Linked DNA regions of Homo sapiens: region 2 is linked to region 1. The links come from fine-mapping of genetic effects on gene expression. A gene starts in region 1. The other region holds a variant in brackets. All regions are shown on one strand. Distances are between the middles of the regions.

Evidence for each region. PIP is the estimated chance that this variant, and not a neighbour inherited with it, causes the effect.
Region 2: its variant is fine-mapped to the expression of SERINC3 in monocytes after LPS (Fairfax 2014, PIP 0.95). The same link has a PIP of 0.9 or more in B cells, CD4 T cells, CD8 T cells and neutrophils.

Annotation. Positions count from the first base shown.
Region 1 is chr20:44,517,095-44,525,434 of GRCh38, forward strand. SERINC3 (serine incorporator 3) reads right to left here and starts at 4,976. Exons shown (of 10, transcript NM_006811.4): 1 at 4,819-4,976. The coding sequence starts at 4,857. RefSeq lists enhancers at 4,187-4,739, 4,658-4,967, 4,874-5,168, 7,201-8,077.
Region 2 is chr20:44,495,101-44,503,440 of GRCh38, forward strand. It overlaps SERINC3 (serine incorporator 3), which reads right to left. Exons shown (of 10, transcript NM_006811.4): 9 at 5,973-6,200; 10 at 2,341-5,334. The coding sequence ends at 5,196. Among named protein-coding and RNA genes, the nearest start is that of SERINC3, 23 kb to the right of the region's middle. RefSeq lists an enhancer at 1,088-2,287. The variant AT/A (reference allele first, on the strand shown) is at 4,799.

The DNA of each region.
Region 1 (8,340 bases):
AAGTTCAGTTTTCTCATCTGTAAAAATGAGCATAATACCACCTACTCGAACAGGGTGATTGAGCAAAGAATGAGATGATGTCAGGAATATAAAGAACCTAGTATAATGCCTGACATATTTATCAGGCTCAATATATCGTGGTAGCCATTATTATTTGTAATTGCAATAGCAATGGGAAATTGACCAGCCAGTCTCAGTCTCCAATTCTTAACTACAGTATAGGCCAAACACTGCAGAGGCATGTCCTCCACAAATTCTTATGTTGAAGTCCTAATGCCCAATTCCTCAAAATGTATCCTTACTTGGTCACTGCAGATGTAGTAAGTTAAGATGAGGTTATATGGAGTAGAGTGAGCAGCTAATTCAATATAACTGTGTCCTTATAAAAAGGGGAAACTTGGACAAAGGCTTACAACACAGGGAGAATTCCACATGCCATGTGAAGGCAGAGATCTACAAGCCAAGGAACATCAAAGACTGCCAGCAAACCAAAAAAAAAAAAAGCCAGGGGAGAGGCATGATACAGATTCTCTCTCACCACCCTTAGAAGGAACCAACCCTGCTGACACCTTCATCCCAGACTTCCAGCCTCTAGAATTCAGAGATAAGAAATCACTGGGTTTAAGCCACTCGGTCTGTGGTACTTTGTTATAAAGCCCTGGCAAACTAATAAACTTACTTACCTATAGTTGTCTTAAGAATGTAAATATCTCGAAGGGGAGACTATCTTTACAACGTTATATCTTTTGTATCTTTACAGAGCAGGTACTCAGTAAATATCTGTGGGACAAATCTGTCCTACTATATGTTATGTCATTTTTCTATTTCAGTAAATGACAACTCCATTCTTCCTGTTGCTTGGGCCCAAAACCTGGAGTCATCCCGAATGCCTTCCCTTTTCCCAAAATCCTCATCCAATCTGTCAGTACATCAGCTCTACCCTTAAAATATATCCAGAATCTGACCATTTTCACAGTATCCTTAGCTATCACCTTTGTCCAAGCCACAACTATCATCTCTCATCTGGATTAAGCGCAAAAGTTCCCATCTCACAGCTGTAGCGACCCATTCAGAAGCTCTGAGTTGGCCGGCACAGTGGCTCACGCCTGTAATCCCAGCACTTTGGGAAGCCAAGGCAGGCAGATCACCTGAGGTCAGGAGTTCAAGACCCGCCAGGCCAACACAGTGAAATCCTGTCTCTACTAAAAATGCAAAATTAGCCTCAAAAAAAAAAAAAAAAAAAAAAGAAGCCCTGAATTGTTATAAAGATTATTTTAAGCTTTTAAGCTGAAGCATCTGAGCTTCAACAGATGCAGAGGAAAAAAAAAAGCCTTCTGGGAGCTTCTCTTATCTGACTAAAAGCAGCAACTTCTGGGAAACGAGGCTGCCATAAAGTCCCTCTCCAGGGCAGTTTTAAGATCATGAAGAAGCTGGAAAGACCCACCATACCTGCATAAACAAGTACTACCACAAACGTATTTCCTATTTATTCTCCTAAAAAAACTTGTCTTTCCTAAAGAAACCTATTTGTTCTTCTCATAGAAGCCTTTCTCCCAGCTTCCTTTTTCCTACTAAATTAGAAAGCCTTGGCTGGGTGCAGTGGCTCACACCTGTAATCCCAGCACTTTGGGAAGCTGAGGTGGGCAGATCACCTGAGGTCGGGAGTTCAAGACCGGCCTGACCAACATGGAGAAACCCCATCTCTACTAAAAATACAAAATTAGCCAGGCGTGGTGGCACATGCCTGTAATCCCAGCTACTTGGGAGGCTGAGGCAGGAGAATCGCTTGAACCTGGGAGGTGGAGATTGCAGTGAGCCAAGATCCCACCATTGCACTCCAGCCTGGGCAACAAGAGTGGAACTTGTTTTCTCAAAAACGAAAAAAAAAAAAAAAGCCTCAAGTTCTAACCGCCCCCTTTGAGTTACTATTACTGAGCACTCCTGTGTGTACATGTCTTGCATGCATAAACTCTAAATAATCTGTTTTGTCAGTTTAATTCACAAGCCCCCAGAAACAGAACCCAAAAGGCTGGAGGAAGATTCTTCCCAGCCTACACTGCTTTACCTTTACTTTTCTACCATCTATTCTCCACACAGCAACCAGAAACCACCTCGTTAAAACACAGGCCCAGATCACATCACTCCTTTTTTCAAACTCTGTAATAGATTCCCATATAACTTAAGAGTAAAAGCCGGGCAAGACGCGGTGGCTCACACCTGTAATCCAAGCACTCTGGGAGGCCGGCGGATCACGAGGTCAGGAGATTGAGACCATCCTGGCGTGAGCCACCATGCCTGGCCTTCAACTCACCAGGATTTTCTAATGTGATAGAAGATAAAAGAAAAATTGTACAGTAAACGATTATTTCATAAAACTTTGTCTCTATATGGGTGCATCAGATCACAGATCAACTATGTACAATCTTTCTTTAGGTCAAGGTCAGAATAATTAGAAAACCACTGCTCTCAAGAAAGCCCTTAAAAATGGAACACTCTTTTGATTTAGGACCAACAACCTTAAAATACATTCTGTTCCTAAGAAATAGTGGAATGAAGCCAGGCATGGTGTCACACACCTGTACTGGGAAGGCTGAGGTGGGAGGATCACTTGAATCCAGGAGTTCAAGGCTGCAGTGAGCTATGACTGAGCCACTGCACTCCAGCCTGGGTGACAGAGCAAAACTCTGTCCCCCTCCAAAAAAAAAAAAGAAAAATAGTAGAAAGAGCTGAAACAGAATCCTTGGTGTAATACTGTCAAATATATGTATGTTTGGTTCCCATTTCCTGGCATACAATTTCTAAAATCCTTGGAATAACCAGCGTCTTTTTGTATGCTAATGAGATGACTGGTGACTGGCAGCCCCTAGGTGGCTTCATGATGGGTGAGGGTCATAGTAGGAGGTTGGGACTTTTCAGTCTCACCCCTGACCCTCCAAGGAGGGGCTGAAGGTTAGGTCAGTAACCAAAAGCCAATGATTTAATGAATGCTGACTACATAATGAAGCCTGCATAAAAGCTCAGAAGGACAAAGTTCAGAAGAACTTTTGGCTGGGCATGGTGGCTCACACCCCAGGAGTTCGAGACCAGCCTGGCCAACATGGCGAAATCCCGTCTTTATTGAAAATACAAAAATTAGCTGGGCGTGGTGGCATACACTATAATCCCAGCTACTCCGGGAGGCTGAAACATGAGAATCCCTTGGAGGTTGAAGAGAGCCGAGATGGCGCCACTGCCCCAGACAGAGCATGGAAGCTCCAGACCCGTTCCCTCTACACCTTGTCTTACATATCACTTCATCTGTATCTTTAAAAATATATTAATAGTAGCCATAAAAAAAGAAGAAAATCATGTCCTTTGCAGCAACAAAGATGCAGCTGGAGGCCACTATCCCAAGTGAATTAATACAGAAACAGAAAACCAAATACAGCATATTCTCGCTTACAAGTGGGAGCTAAACACTGGGAACACAGACACGAAGATGGCAACAATAAACACTGGAGAGTCCAAGAGTGGGGAAGGACGGTGGGGGGATAGGGGTTGAAAAACTACCTGTTGGATACTGTGTTCACTGTTTGGGCAACGGAATCATTAGAAACCCAAACCTCACGATAAGGCAATATACCCATGTAACAAAACTGCATATGTACCCTCTGAATCTAAAATTAAAAATACATAAATACACAAAATAAAATACTTTTATAATAAACCAGTAAACATGTTTCCTTGAGTTTTGTGACCAAATTAATCAAAGCCAAGGAGGGAGGTCACGGGAACTTTGATTTATAGGTGGCCGGTCAGAAGCACAGGTAAAACAACCTGAGGCTTGCCATTGGCACAGAAAGTGGGCACAGTCTTGTGAGACTGAGCCCTCCACTTGTGTGATTTGATGCTATCTCCAAGTAGAGAGCTTCGGAATTGACTTGTAGGGCACCAAGTTGGCATCCCCTGCAGAGCTGACTGTTTGCCTGATGTTTGGGGGAAAATCCCCACACACCACACATCAGGTGTCAAAAGTGTGTTGTGAGTACAGCAGGAGAAACTGAGTGTGCTTTTTCTACACACTTGGTCAATTAAATCAGCTGGAGAATGAGGAATCAAGGAATCACGCTCCTCTGAAGTGGGTAAATGAGGGAACTCAGCATATTCTTTTATAGGCCCTATAATTTTCTCTTTAAAATGTTTACAGTTTACAAGGTGATTAAACCTTCACTTCACTGTCACAATCGTTCTCGAAGAGAGGAATGCTGGGGTGATTATCCTCGGATAAATGACTTACAGCAGTCCCAAAATATTCAGGCCCTGGTTTCCAATTTTGAATAACAATCCACAAGGGCTTCTTTCCCTTGCACCTGAACTGCAGACAAGCCTCCGCTAAAACCCCAGCTTTGCCACACACTCTGTAGTTTTGGCAAATCCCGTGCTAGGGGATAAAAATATTACTTGAGCCACCTAGAACTAAATGATGGCACCTTAAGAGGTGCTTCGGGAGGAACCGGAGCCCCTCGCTGGGAGCTGTCATTCCTTGGTCCCTCTCCAGCTCCAGAGGAACCTAGTCAGGAAGCCTCGCAGGGCGGAGCCATCCGAATTGTAAACAATGGCGGCCTAGCCTCTTCCGTTCCCCGAGGAACCCGGAGGGCGAGCCGCCTAAGCTGGACCTGAGGGTATCGCGGATTTGCGTCTGGGGCCCCGGAGACCCTCTGTAGCCCAGGGCCTGCTGACATCCCGAGAGCCTCTGGAGCCAAGGCCCGTGCAGCTCTGGTCTCGAGGCCTTTCCCCGCAAACCGCAGGTCCGGCGAGGACTCGGGACCCCGAACTCACCCAGCTGGCGAGGGAGAAGACACCCAGCACAGCCCCCATGGTGACGCCAGTGATGGAGGTGGCCGGTCCTGAGGCTGCTTTCTAACACGGTGGTAACTGCCAGCTGAGGTGACTCCCCAGAAACATGACGGTTTCTCAGGCCGGAAACGCAGCCTTCCACAGACGCACGGATGCGTCACGGCGTGGCCCCGCCCACCGTCCGCGACCGGAGCGGCAGAGGGGGGCGCCTGTCATTGGCTGAGGGGGAAGGTGGGGCTAAACCATCCTGGGGTTGCAGGAACTGTGAAGGTGTCATTCCTTACATCATTTGTATTCATTGTGCAAAGATCTGGAAGTTACAGAAGTGTACAGAGAGGCACAGTACGCTCAGAATTTATTCTCTAGTTAATAGGAGATCTGACAACATAAATGCACCGTGCCCCAATGTAATGAATACGATGAAGTAGTATGGGGGAATAGGCTTTCAATAAAGGTGTATTTAGTGCCTCCTATTGTAAGGGGAAAGTAATTTAGCTGGGCAGTAGTCTTGGAAGGCTTCTCTGAAGGATTTATTTTTTAATCTGCGAACTAAAGGATGAGTCCAAATTAACCTAGAAACGATGGAAATCGTATCCTAAAATGTGGGATGCACCCCATTTGGGAAAAATGAATGGCTCTAAGGGTGCATGAAGGACATTAAGCGATATTAAACAGCAGAGTGAGAACGTCCCATTTCAAACCAACAGGCTAGTTGTTTGAGGCCAGTATGGTATTTAACATTTTTCTAGTATTTATCTCCCTTTCTAACAGAGTAAAGCCTTCATTTTCCAGATCTCTCAAACAGGCAACCATGCCTGCAGTTTTAAAATATTGTTTTGTTTTGAGGTGTGTGTTAGCAATAACCTTTTCATTTCTTCCGAGCAATGCTGATTTCCCATTTAAGCAGTGATGTAAATATTCCTTTCAAAATACATGTCAAATTTGAGAGTTCACTTAAAGAAGAAAATGAAAACATTTTTTACTTACACATATAATAGTTTAGGTGGAATGTGGCAAACAATGATGATGTCCGGACAACAAGGTGTCACACTTCAATATCTTCTCCTGTGGTGTGTTAATCTTCCCTGATAGATAAAACTCTCTGGAAGGGGATTCATAATTGAATTCCTTCTGGATTGTCAGCCTTTAGTCTGATAAGGGAAATTCATGAAAAGCCCCTCTCTCCATGTGCTGTTCCCCAAGCAATCATCATACCAGTGTGGCATATTTGGGGATGTTATTTCCTGGATTCCTTGAAAATGTATTCCAAATTCATCTTTTACAGAAATGGAATGAGGCTCAAAGTTTGCCCAAGGCCATGAAAAGGGCTGATGAAAGAAGAAAGAGAACTACTCACATTTAATAATTCCTACCTCTCTTTTCCCAGATCCCTCTCCTCACCACACATACACAAATACCAGCTCAAGTCAAGTTGCTTCAGGACCACTGAACTTTCCAGGTAGTCCTTAACATTCTTGCTTCTTCCTGTCTGAGTATTGCTGGTCTGGACTTAAGAGAGCTGACTGTGATAAATTTTACAGATCGAATTCTACCAGAAACATACCTGTAGTCAAAAAGAATTAGGTTTATTTAGCTTGTTCAGAAAGGGAGAACACATATCAGAGAAAATATAAGGTGTCTTGGTAAGAGGTGACTGGGGAGAACTTATTTTAGGATTTGGGTTTATGCTGGGTAACTAAATCTAAGGAGAGTTTAAGGAGGAGGAGAACAGTTTTGGATTGGACACAGTCAAGGAGTAGAGGCAATTCAGTGATTAGGTATCTTACAAATTTTTATCCAGAAGGAAGAAGGATTAAAACAAGGCTAGATTAGTCCTTGGAAAAGTGTGATACCCTACCTTGTCTTAACCTGAATTGACTCTCTCTTAGCTGAGGGAGACAGACAAACTCCATTTTGGCTCCTTCACTTGCCGCTCCTTACCCATCCCACTTCCTCAAGGATTTAACTTGTGCAAGCTGACTCCCAGCACATCAAAGAATGCAATTAACTGATAAGATACTGTGGCAAGCGATAGCTGCAGTTTCCAGGAATTCACCCGGTTGATAGTACCCTAAGCCCCTGCATTTTTGTCCGGTTGATGGTACCCAAAGCCCCCACATCTATCACCTTGTGATGGATTTAAAGCCCCTGCACCTGGAACTATTTGTTTTCCTGTAACCATTTGTCTTTTTAACTTTTTTGCCTGTTTTACTTCTGTAAGATTGCCTCAGCTAGGCTCCCCCTCCCCTTTCTAAACCAAAGTATAAAAGAAAATCTAGCCCCTTCTTCGGGGCCGAGAGAATTTTAAGCACTAGCCATCTCTCAGTTGCCGGCTAATAAAGGACTCCTGAATTCGTCTCAGAGTGTGGCGTTTCTCTATAATTCGCTCGGTTACAAAAAAAGAAGCAAAATCCACTCATTTATTAGTCAGAATTGGAAGATGTTGAGTCCTATCTGCGGTACCAGAGTGGCTTTGTCTGTATCTTGATCCAACTACATGGTGGTCTTGTCTGATCTTTGTTTATATTCTGTGATCACTGTTTTTGTTCAGTTAGAAACATTAGGTCTAGCTGTCAGCTGAACAGTTTTTCATTTTCTTACCTGTAAGCATTTGTCCTCCCACATGTAGGATCCCCCCATCTCTTAGTGTTTCTGGCCCTAACTGGTTGAGTGTGTCACTTCTACTTGGCCAAAGCGAGGACAGCAGATCTTTGTGATCATCTACTCCAATTTCCCGCCTCAGGCAGAAACCCCTTAGCAACATCTCTTCTAGGGTAGGGGGCTCACTGCCACCCAAGGCAGCTCCTCCCATCTTTACACATCCATTGTCAAACCTGTCAGGCCTCTGAGCCCAAGCTAAGCCATCATAACCCCGTGACCTTCACATACACATCCAGATGGCCTGTTCCTGCCTTAACTGATGACATTCCACCACGAAAGAAGTGAAAATGCCCTGTTCCTGCCTTAACTGATGACATTACCTTGTGAAATTCCTTCTCCTGGCTCATCCTGGCTCAAAAGCTCCCCCACTGAGCACCTTGTGACCCCCGCCCCTGACCATCAGAGAACAACCCTCTTTGACTGTAACTTTCCTTTACCTACCCAAATCCTATAAAACGGCCCCACCCCTATCTCCCTTCGCTGACTCTCTTTTCGGACTCAGCCCGCCTGCACCCAGGTGAAATAAACAGCCCTGTTGCTCACACAAAGCCTGTTTGGTGGTCTCTTCACACGGACGCGAGTAAAAAAACCTAGGTTATTTCCCCCCATATGTTGTTGAAAAGATAACACATGTACTTGGTTATAACATACTGCATAAAGGAGCACACGGTGAAAATGAAGTGTCCTTCCCACCCTTCCCCCACCCCCATCTCCCAGATCTCCTTTCAGAGTTCCTACAGGAATATGCATATGCCAGCATTATGGCACTTTTTTTTTTTTTTTTTTTTTTGAGACAGAGTCTCGCTCTGTCGCCCAGGCTGGAGTGCAGTGGCACAATCTTGG
Region 2 (8,340 bases), 22 kb before region 1:
TCCTGATGGCTGGAGACAAATAACGAGTCCCCAGATAGAAGAGAGAGAGAAGGCAGGACTCTTTCATAGAGTAAGAAAGAACCAGAAATTGACTTTTTAACTGGCTTCTTGAAAATACAAGCAGTGGTTGTTAACCTCTCTGAAACCCAAGTTGTAACAACATTTTATTCCAGAAGTAAGCCCAGACTCCTTGAGGGGTAACTGGAGCACGGCTTGCCCAACTATGGTCCCAGGCCTGCTAAGCTGTTTCTATGTCCCCTGTTTATTTGGTACTCTGTGCCCCAGAGTAGACAAAAACTAGGTCCCCATGGTAGATCTGGTGACTTGATGAGTCAGTTGAGAAATACTCTAACACAGGAGGTACACTTTTGATGATGCAACAGGTTAAGTACTTATATTGCAGCATAACCACCCCTTCAGGTCAGCCTTTCCTGAGGAAATTGTGGAACTTAAGTTCAGTCTGTTTCTCACATATAGAAAAATGAAGCTAACTGTTAAAATCCTTTTCTCTCACAGCAGTCTTATGAGGCCCTTTTCCATGAGTCAGTATTTTCTTGATGCCCCCTGCCCCCTCCTTACACAGTACTGGTTTGGTACCCATACACTCAATGGCAATAAAGTTTCACATTATCGCATTTAAAGGGTAAGTAATAAGACCCTTTAGGGTACCACTCTTCTGGGGAAAACGTTTTTAACCTAATATTCATGCTTTTTCCTGAGTAGGTGCCAGCCACTAGGGATAGCTGACCTAGTAAAAGACATGAGTCACTTGCCTTCAGGTGACTACTAACTTGTCTTTGTCAGTGATGGGTAGAGGAGCAAACACTCTGTGCCTGAGAGTAGACAAAAACTAGGTTCCCATGGTAGATCTGGTGAGTTGGTGATGAGTCATTAGTGAGCCAGATGACTCCCCTACATGTCTCTAATAAATCCTGTCTCTTATATTCTTATGGCCCAAGAGACACTGAGGTCTAATTGAAAAAAGAACTCTTAAGCCAAGCCCTGGGTTTCTCTGTTTCACCTCTTACTGAGTAACCATAGGCAAGTCACGAACTTCTCTAAGCCTCAAACTGATACGTAAAAGGAAGGAGGGAGGGAAATAATCACCACCTTACAGGCATGTGGATACTGTCTGTTTAATGCTTGGTACACCTACCCATCTATGTGGTTTCTATTATTCTTCTTCACCTGAGAACATAGGCATGGTGTGGCTTGAGTCATCCAGCAGTAATTAGGACATCACTGAGTTGGGTGCCTAGGTAACAGGACGGACAGACCAACACAACAGGAGTAAAGAGATGAACAGCAGCTTCCATTAATAAGCATAAGCCTACTATCTGTTATCAATCTGCACAGATCAAATGCACAACTCATTATGTGAATACTCACTTTAGCCTGAATGTGTAAAAACAGCCAGGTGCAGTGGCTCCCGCCTGTAATCCCAACACTTTGGGAGGCTGAGGCAGGTGGATCACCTGAGGCCAGGAGTTCGGGACCAGCCTGGCCAACATGGTGAAATCCCATCTCTACTAAAAACACAAAAATTAGCCAGGTGTGGTGGCGCGCACCTATAGTCCCAGCTACTCAGGAGACTGAGGCAGGAGAATTGCTTGAACATGGGAGGTGGAGGTTGCAGTGAGCCAAGATGGCACCACTGCACTCCAGCCTGGGCAACAGAGCAAAACTCTGTCTAAAAAAAGAAAAAAGAACCAGTTACAGATTTCTTTGTTCCTTCTCCATTCCTCACTTGGCTAGCCAAAAAGAAAAAGAACAAAACCTCTATACTGAGAACCAGGTCCATGGCTACTCTTTGGCAGGCAGTTTCTTTGATTACCAAGAGAAAGTTTTACTTCCCAACCAGATAACCCGCAAGACCAACCTAGAAAATAAAGGAGTCCAGCATGGACCTAGAAGCTTTCTCCCGGCTTTAACGAGGTAAAAGTGGCAGCCACTGCTATTGCCTTTGATGAGTTCCTAGAGCATGTCCCTGATCTGAAAGCCAGGGCCCCAACCCGCATTCCCCAAGGCTAGGCAAGCCCTTTCATAGTGATGAAACATAAAGGTACTCATCTGGAATGAAAGGCCACCCTGAGATCTGATGACTCAAAATACTCCCCTGCTTTAAATGATGATCCTGGCCTTATTCAGAATGCTGTCTTACTCATGCTTGTATATAATTCAGCATTCACATGTATAATTCACTTGAGTCTTGATTAGACTACTGGTTTTCCTACTAAGAGGCAGACTTCACTACTTCTTAAGGTAGGACCAAGCAAAGCAGGGACACTGCCTCCCGACTTTTAAAGAGCATTTGTTACTTCAAATTAATATCAGTTATCATCATGAGAAAAAAATAAAAACTTTATTGGACTTTGTTACATTTATTTTACAGTTTAGTATTGTTTGTATTTTGAATTACATTAAGGCGGAGGATGGGGCACTGTAATGTTTTTGAAGTTTAGGACCTTTAAAGCTCTTAAGCTGACTCCGCTACTGTAAAGAAAAGCAGGGTATCTGCTTCACACTGGCAAAATAAGGGGCTACATTTCCCCATCTGACCCTCAAATCCCTTGAAACGCTATACCCTGACATAAACCACTGGTTTAAAAGACAATGATTCCAATAATTTATATCAAGTCCTGCTTCCCTACCCCACACCTCCACCCTAACTGAGCCTGTCCCCTCTGTGTTCCTCTGTCTAATTCTGTAACAAAATCTGAAATCCAGCCTCCATCAGATTCTGGCTAGATATCTCTGACCTTTGAATATTGTCTTATTTTAGCCCATAATGAGATCAGCAGCTACTGTCAGTGCTATGTCAGTGCTAAAAATGGGTTACACTTTGCAAAATAACTTTATTCTTTAACAATCTTGTACACTAGGCACCAACACTGAGGCTCAGCTGCCTGTGGTCATAAATCAAATAGTACGTACTCAACAAATAATAGCTGACAAGTTTGATAGCCAGAAAACGGCAAAGCTGGGATGCAAACCCAAGCAGTCTGACTCCCAAGCCTCTTAACCATTCTTAAGAGACCACCTACCTCCATTCTTCTTCGAACACATGTTTTTCCTGTTTGCCACCTGAATACGTGGAACCACCATCCACCCAGCTGGTTAAACCAGAATCACTCAGAAATCTACCTCTCCTTCATATTATTCATAACTGCCAGTGTTAAAATTCTAATTGCTGGCCAGGCACGGTGGCTCATGCCAGTAATCCTAGAACTTTGGGAGGCCGCGGCAGGTGGATCACGAGGTCAGGAGATCGAGACCATCCTGGCTAACATGGTGAAACCCTGTCTCTACTAAAAATACAAAAAAAATTAGCCAGGCGTGGTGGTGGGTGCCTGTAGTCCCAGCTACTAGGGAGGCTGAGGCGGGAGAATGGCGTGAACCCGGGAGGCGGAGCCTGCAGTGAGCGGAGATCGCACCATTGCACTCCAGCCTGGGCGACAGAGCAAGACTCCGTCTCAAAAAAAAAAATTAAAATTGAAAAAAAAAAATTCTAATTGCTAAGTAGCCCTCACCTGTCAATTTCTCCCCGTCCCTACGATTCCACTTCTCTATTTCACATCTCATATGGACTGCACCTGGTCTCATCTCTCTAAATCCATTCTCTATATATCAGCCCAAGTGACTGAAGATAAAATTTGTTCATGACACTATGAATATGTTTTCAGCCACCCTCAACATAAGGTCCAAACTCTTTACTGAGGTTGATAAAGCCCTTTAAAATTCAGTCCCTGACTACATTTCCCCATTCCAGCTTTACTGAACTTTTTTTCCCCATCTTCCTGCCTTTAACATGCAGTTTTATCTACTCCAGCAATGTCGTCTCATTTTCCCATCTCTCTCTTAGCTAACTTCTAAGAGTTCTTGGCTTAAATATCATTTTCTCCAGAAAGCCTACCATTACACCAAATACCTCTCCTTTGAGTTCTCTCCAATTCCTAAACCACAGCACTAATTCACATTATAACCACCTGTCAGCTCATTTGCTCTCTTCTCTAAGCTATTAAAGTCCAAGACGGCAGAGCCTCTATCATGTTTAACACTGTACCCCAAAACCTACAGGGTCTAGTACAGAATAGACAGTAAATCTTTGTTGAAAGAACTCTTTTATTCTACCTTTTTGCACACCACCTCTCATGAAAATGGTTCTTGACAATGCCTTCCGTCTCTCATCTACCAAGTGTCTTACCTAGAGAAGGTATTTAGGACTTTTGAATAAATTCAAGACTTTGCTCACTAGTCAGACCGTAATTTTTAGAAGGAATAGGAGCATCCTGACTAGAAGCGTGATAAAACCTGGCTATCCAGAAAATAAAGAATGGCTGCTAACTATAAAAGCTGTTGGAAGAAAGGGCCTTAAAATCTTAAAAGTCTTTGTATTTTAACCAAATACCTTCATAGTGCAAATATGATAAATTCACATGCATTTTACTTTTACATACTCATAACAAGATAGTAACACAGACTAAAGCTGCAGTGTTTTCCCAAGTGAATCTTCATTTTAACCAAACTCACAAAGCATTTATGGAAATTAATACATCTGGCAAAGCACCAGACTTGAATCAAGCAGTCTCAATGCTACAGTGTAAAAAAAGTAAATTAAAAAACTCAAGATGTAGAAGCAGTAGCCATATCAGCAACCATTCTTCTAGGGAAGGGACCCACATATACGATCCTTCCCCAAGAACTTTGATGCTACCCCGCTGAAGAGTTTAAGCACAAAACACAGTGCTTGTATCATATAAGTAAGGACTTTCATAGAGGAAAACTGTAATATAAATGC[AT/A]TTTTTTTTTTTTGCTTTTAAAGGATACTGCAATATAAATATATTAAGCATGGCCTCAAATATCCAACATTTTCCTATCTTACATTTTAAACCAAAGTTAAAAGAACCTACAGGCTTTATAAAGAACTCTCTTCACAGCACAGCTGTAGTTCACTTTAAACAAAAAATGTTCCCTTTGTGCTATATCCTTAGAAGTAAACATAATATACAGATAAATGAGAAGTTTCGATTCTGCATCAAGCATTATTCAATCTCACCTTCTGATATAAACCTGCATACAGTCAAACTTGCAAAGCATTCACTTAATATTTTAGTTGAAACAAACTTAAAAGGTATATGGGTTTTCGGTGAAGGAGACCTTTGTGAGTTCCAGTGGTGTCCTTGGCACTCAGAGGTTCAGCTGAAGTCCCGACTGGTGAGGACAAGTGGAGCCACAAGGGTCCAGACGTAAAGCAGGAGGCAGACCCAGCTGGAGCTGATCTTGACCCACACAGCTGGCCACTTGCTGGTCATGCTCTGAAACTTTGCATCAGGGCTAAGAAAACAAGAGAGAGTCAGGTAGAAAAGCCTGGTCTACCTGACTTCTATCAGCCTCCTGCAGCCCCCCAGCCAAGGCCAAGAAATTCTCCAGTGAAACTTGGCTGGCACTACCCCCCAGTAGGGTTGAAGGGGACCAGAGGAAGCTGCTATTTTTAGTTCTTATGACCAAGAACTAAACAGCTCATTGACTCTGCCTCTCAAATGACTTTTCTTCTTGCCAGCATGAAAGACCCTATCAGGGCAAAGTTCTTTAAATGTTCCTAGTTACTGGCAAAGGTCTAGATTGAGATAGCCTCCCTGAAACTTTCCTTCCTTAGTACATTATTACGGGAACCAGAATGCTCTGACATGGCCATCTCTATACACAGAAAATTAGTGAACAAAGATGGGTCAGATTGCTTTATGTCATGATTTTCTCTCTCAATTAACTCAACTCTGTAAGAGCTCCCAATGATTTGCATTGCAAAGAATTCCAATGGGTTTTAAATGCTAGAGGGGATAAAGTCAAGAGTATTTAACCCAACTTCATTATATGGGTAAGAGCAAGGGTTCTGAGGTCAGGACAATGGATGAGATTTTATAGGCCATCCAAGGGTTTTATGGTCTTCTGTCTGTTTTGTCTGTGTCTCCTACCTGTACCAGCTGGTCAGGGTCATCATGATGTACAAGGAAGCCAAGCAGAGCATGAGGTGGAATAAGGAGTAGCTATACTGCACTCCCTCTTTCTCGTTGTCCACAGCCCGCCGAGGCTGTCCATCTTCTTCATCACTGGCACCACTGGTAGTTGTATCACCAAGGATGACGCTGTCACTCCCTGACAGGGTCAGCTTGTCTACTTGGCTATTAGTGGAAGTGCGGATGCTGGAAAGTGATCCCAAGGAAGACAAATCAGAAAGGGGCCATGACAATGAACTGCTGCCACTGGCCTGTATACAAGACACTTACTGCTGAGCTGTTCCTACTTTGGAGACTGAAAGCTTTCTGAAGATCCTGCTTAAAGTTCTGAACTGCTGCCTGTCATCATAAGACTGACGTCACTGTCATCAGTTACTACTTGATGTGATGGCTTAATTGCTTAGGAGTTTCATAAAACACACTATGCTCTCTGTGTCTGTTTCCGTGACTTCACAAGTGCCGCTTCTATGATTGGAAGGTACCACGTGCCAACCTCCTTCCAACTAACTTACTCATCCTTCACTTCTCTGACTTGCTGTCATGTCCTCTGGAAGGCCTTCCCTGACATCACCCCTCACTGGCTAGGTTACAAGACACTCCTCCGACTTCCCACAGCTTCCTAGGCTTCCTTCTGCCACTGCACATATCACTCCTATCTTCCTTGCTATTCAAAGAATGCCTTAACAGTGACCTTAGTCTATGTAATTCTAGCACTACAGATGTTCACTAAAAGTTTGTTAAATGACTGAATAAAAATGTAAATACAAAAACAGGACAAAAATTACATGCTCGTTTCAACAGACACAGAAAAAACATCTCACAAATCCAATACCTTTCCATGATAAAAACAGTCAAAGTAGAACTTCCTCAGGCTGACAAAAGGAACAAAAAACCCAGAGCTAACATCATACTTAACAGTGAAAGACTAAAAACTTTCCCCCTGAGATCAGGAACAAGACAAGGATCCTACTCTCACCATTTCTATCCAACAATGTAGTAAAATTCTAGCCAGAGCAAATAGAAGAGATAAATGGTATCCAGACTAGAAAAGAAGTAAAACTATCTCTATCTGTAGATGACTTCATCTTGTTTATAGGAAATCCTATGGAATACATACACATGCAAACTATTAGAACCAATAAATAAGTTCACCAAAGTTGCAGGATACAAGATCAATATATAGAAATCAGGACTGGGTGTGGTGGCTCACGCCTATAATCCCAACTACTTGAGAGGCTGAGGTGGGAGGATCGCCAGAGGACAGGAGCTCAAGACTGGCCAGTGCAACACAGCAAGACTGTTCCTAAAAAGATTAAAAATTAGCTGGGCATGATGGTGTGTGCCTGTAGTTTCAGCTACTCAGGAGGCTGAGGTGGGAGGATCACTTGAGACCAGGAGCTTGAGGCTGTAGTGAGCTATGATCACACCACTGCATTCCAGCCTGGATGACAGAGCAACACTTCTTCTCTTCAAAAAAAAAAAAAAAAAAACACAAAAATCAATTGTATTTCTTTTTGAGATGAGGTCTCACTCTGTCACCCAGGTGGACTGTAGTAGTACAATCACAGCTCACTGCAGACTTGACCTCCTGGGCTCAATTGGTCCTCCCACCTCCCCAAGTAGCTGGGACTACAGATTGCACCACCACACCTGGCTAATTTTTATAGAGACGGGCTCTTACTATCTTGCTCTGACTGGTCTCAAACTCCTGGATGCAAGCGATCCTCCCACCTCAGCCTCCTAACGTGTGGGAAATACAGGCATGAGCCACCATGCCTCGTCACCAATCATATCTCTATACACTAGCAATAAACAACCCAAAAGTTAAGCTAAGAAAACATACATTCATTTATAATACCATCGAAAAGAATAAAATACTTAGAATTGTATTTAGAATAAAACACTTAAAAACAAAATAAGTTTAAGATTTGTATACTAATAACTAACTATAAACCACTGAAAGAAATTAAAGACCTAAATAAATGGTTTAAGTAAAGAAGACTTCAGTAAGGTATCTTCATGGTCACAGACTGGAAGCCTTAATATTGCTGAGATGACAATACTCCCCAATTTGGTCTATACAGATTCAACTCAATCCCTATAAAAATCCCAGCTACATATTTTTTTGCAGAAATTGACAAGCTGATCCTGAAATTCACATGGGAATGCAAAGGACCCATAACTGCCAAAACAATTTTGAAAAAGAACAAATTTGGAGGACTCATACTTCCTAATTTCAAAACTTACTACAGGCTGGGCATGGTGGCTCACACCTGTAATCCCAGCACTTTGGGAGGCTGAGAAAGGAGGATCACCTGAGGTCAGG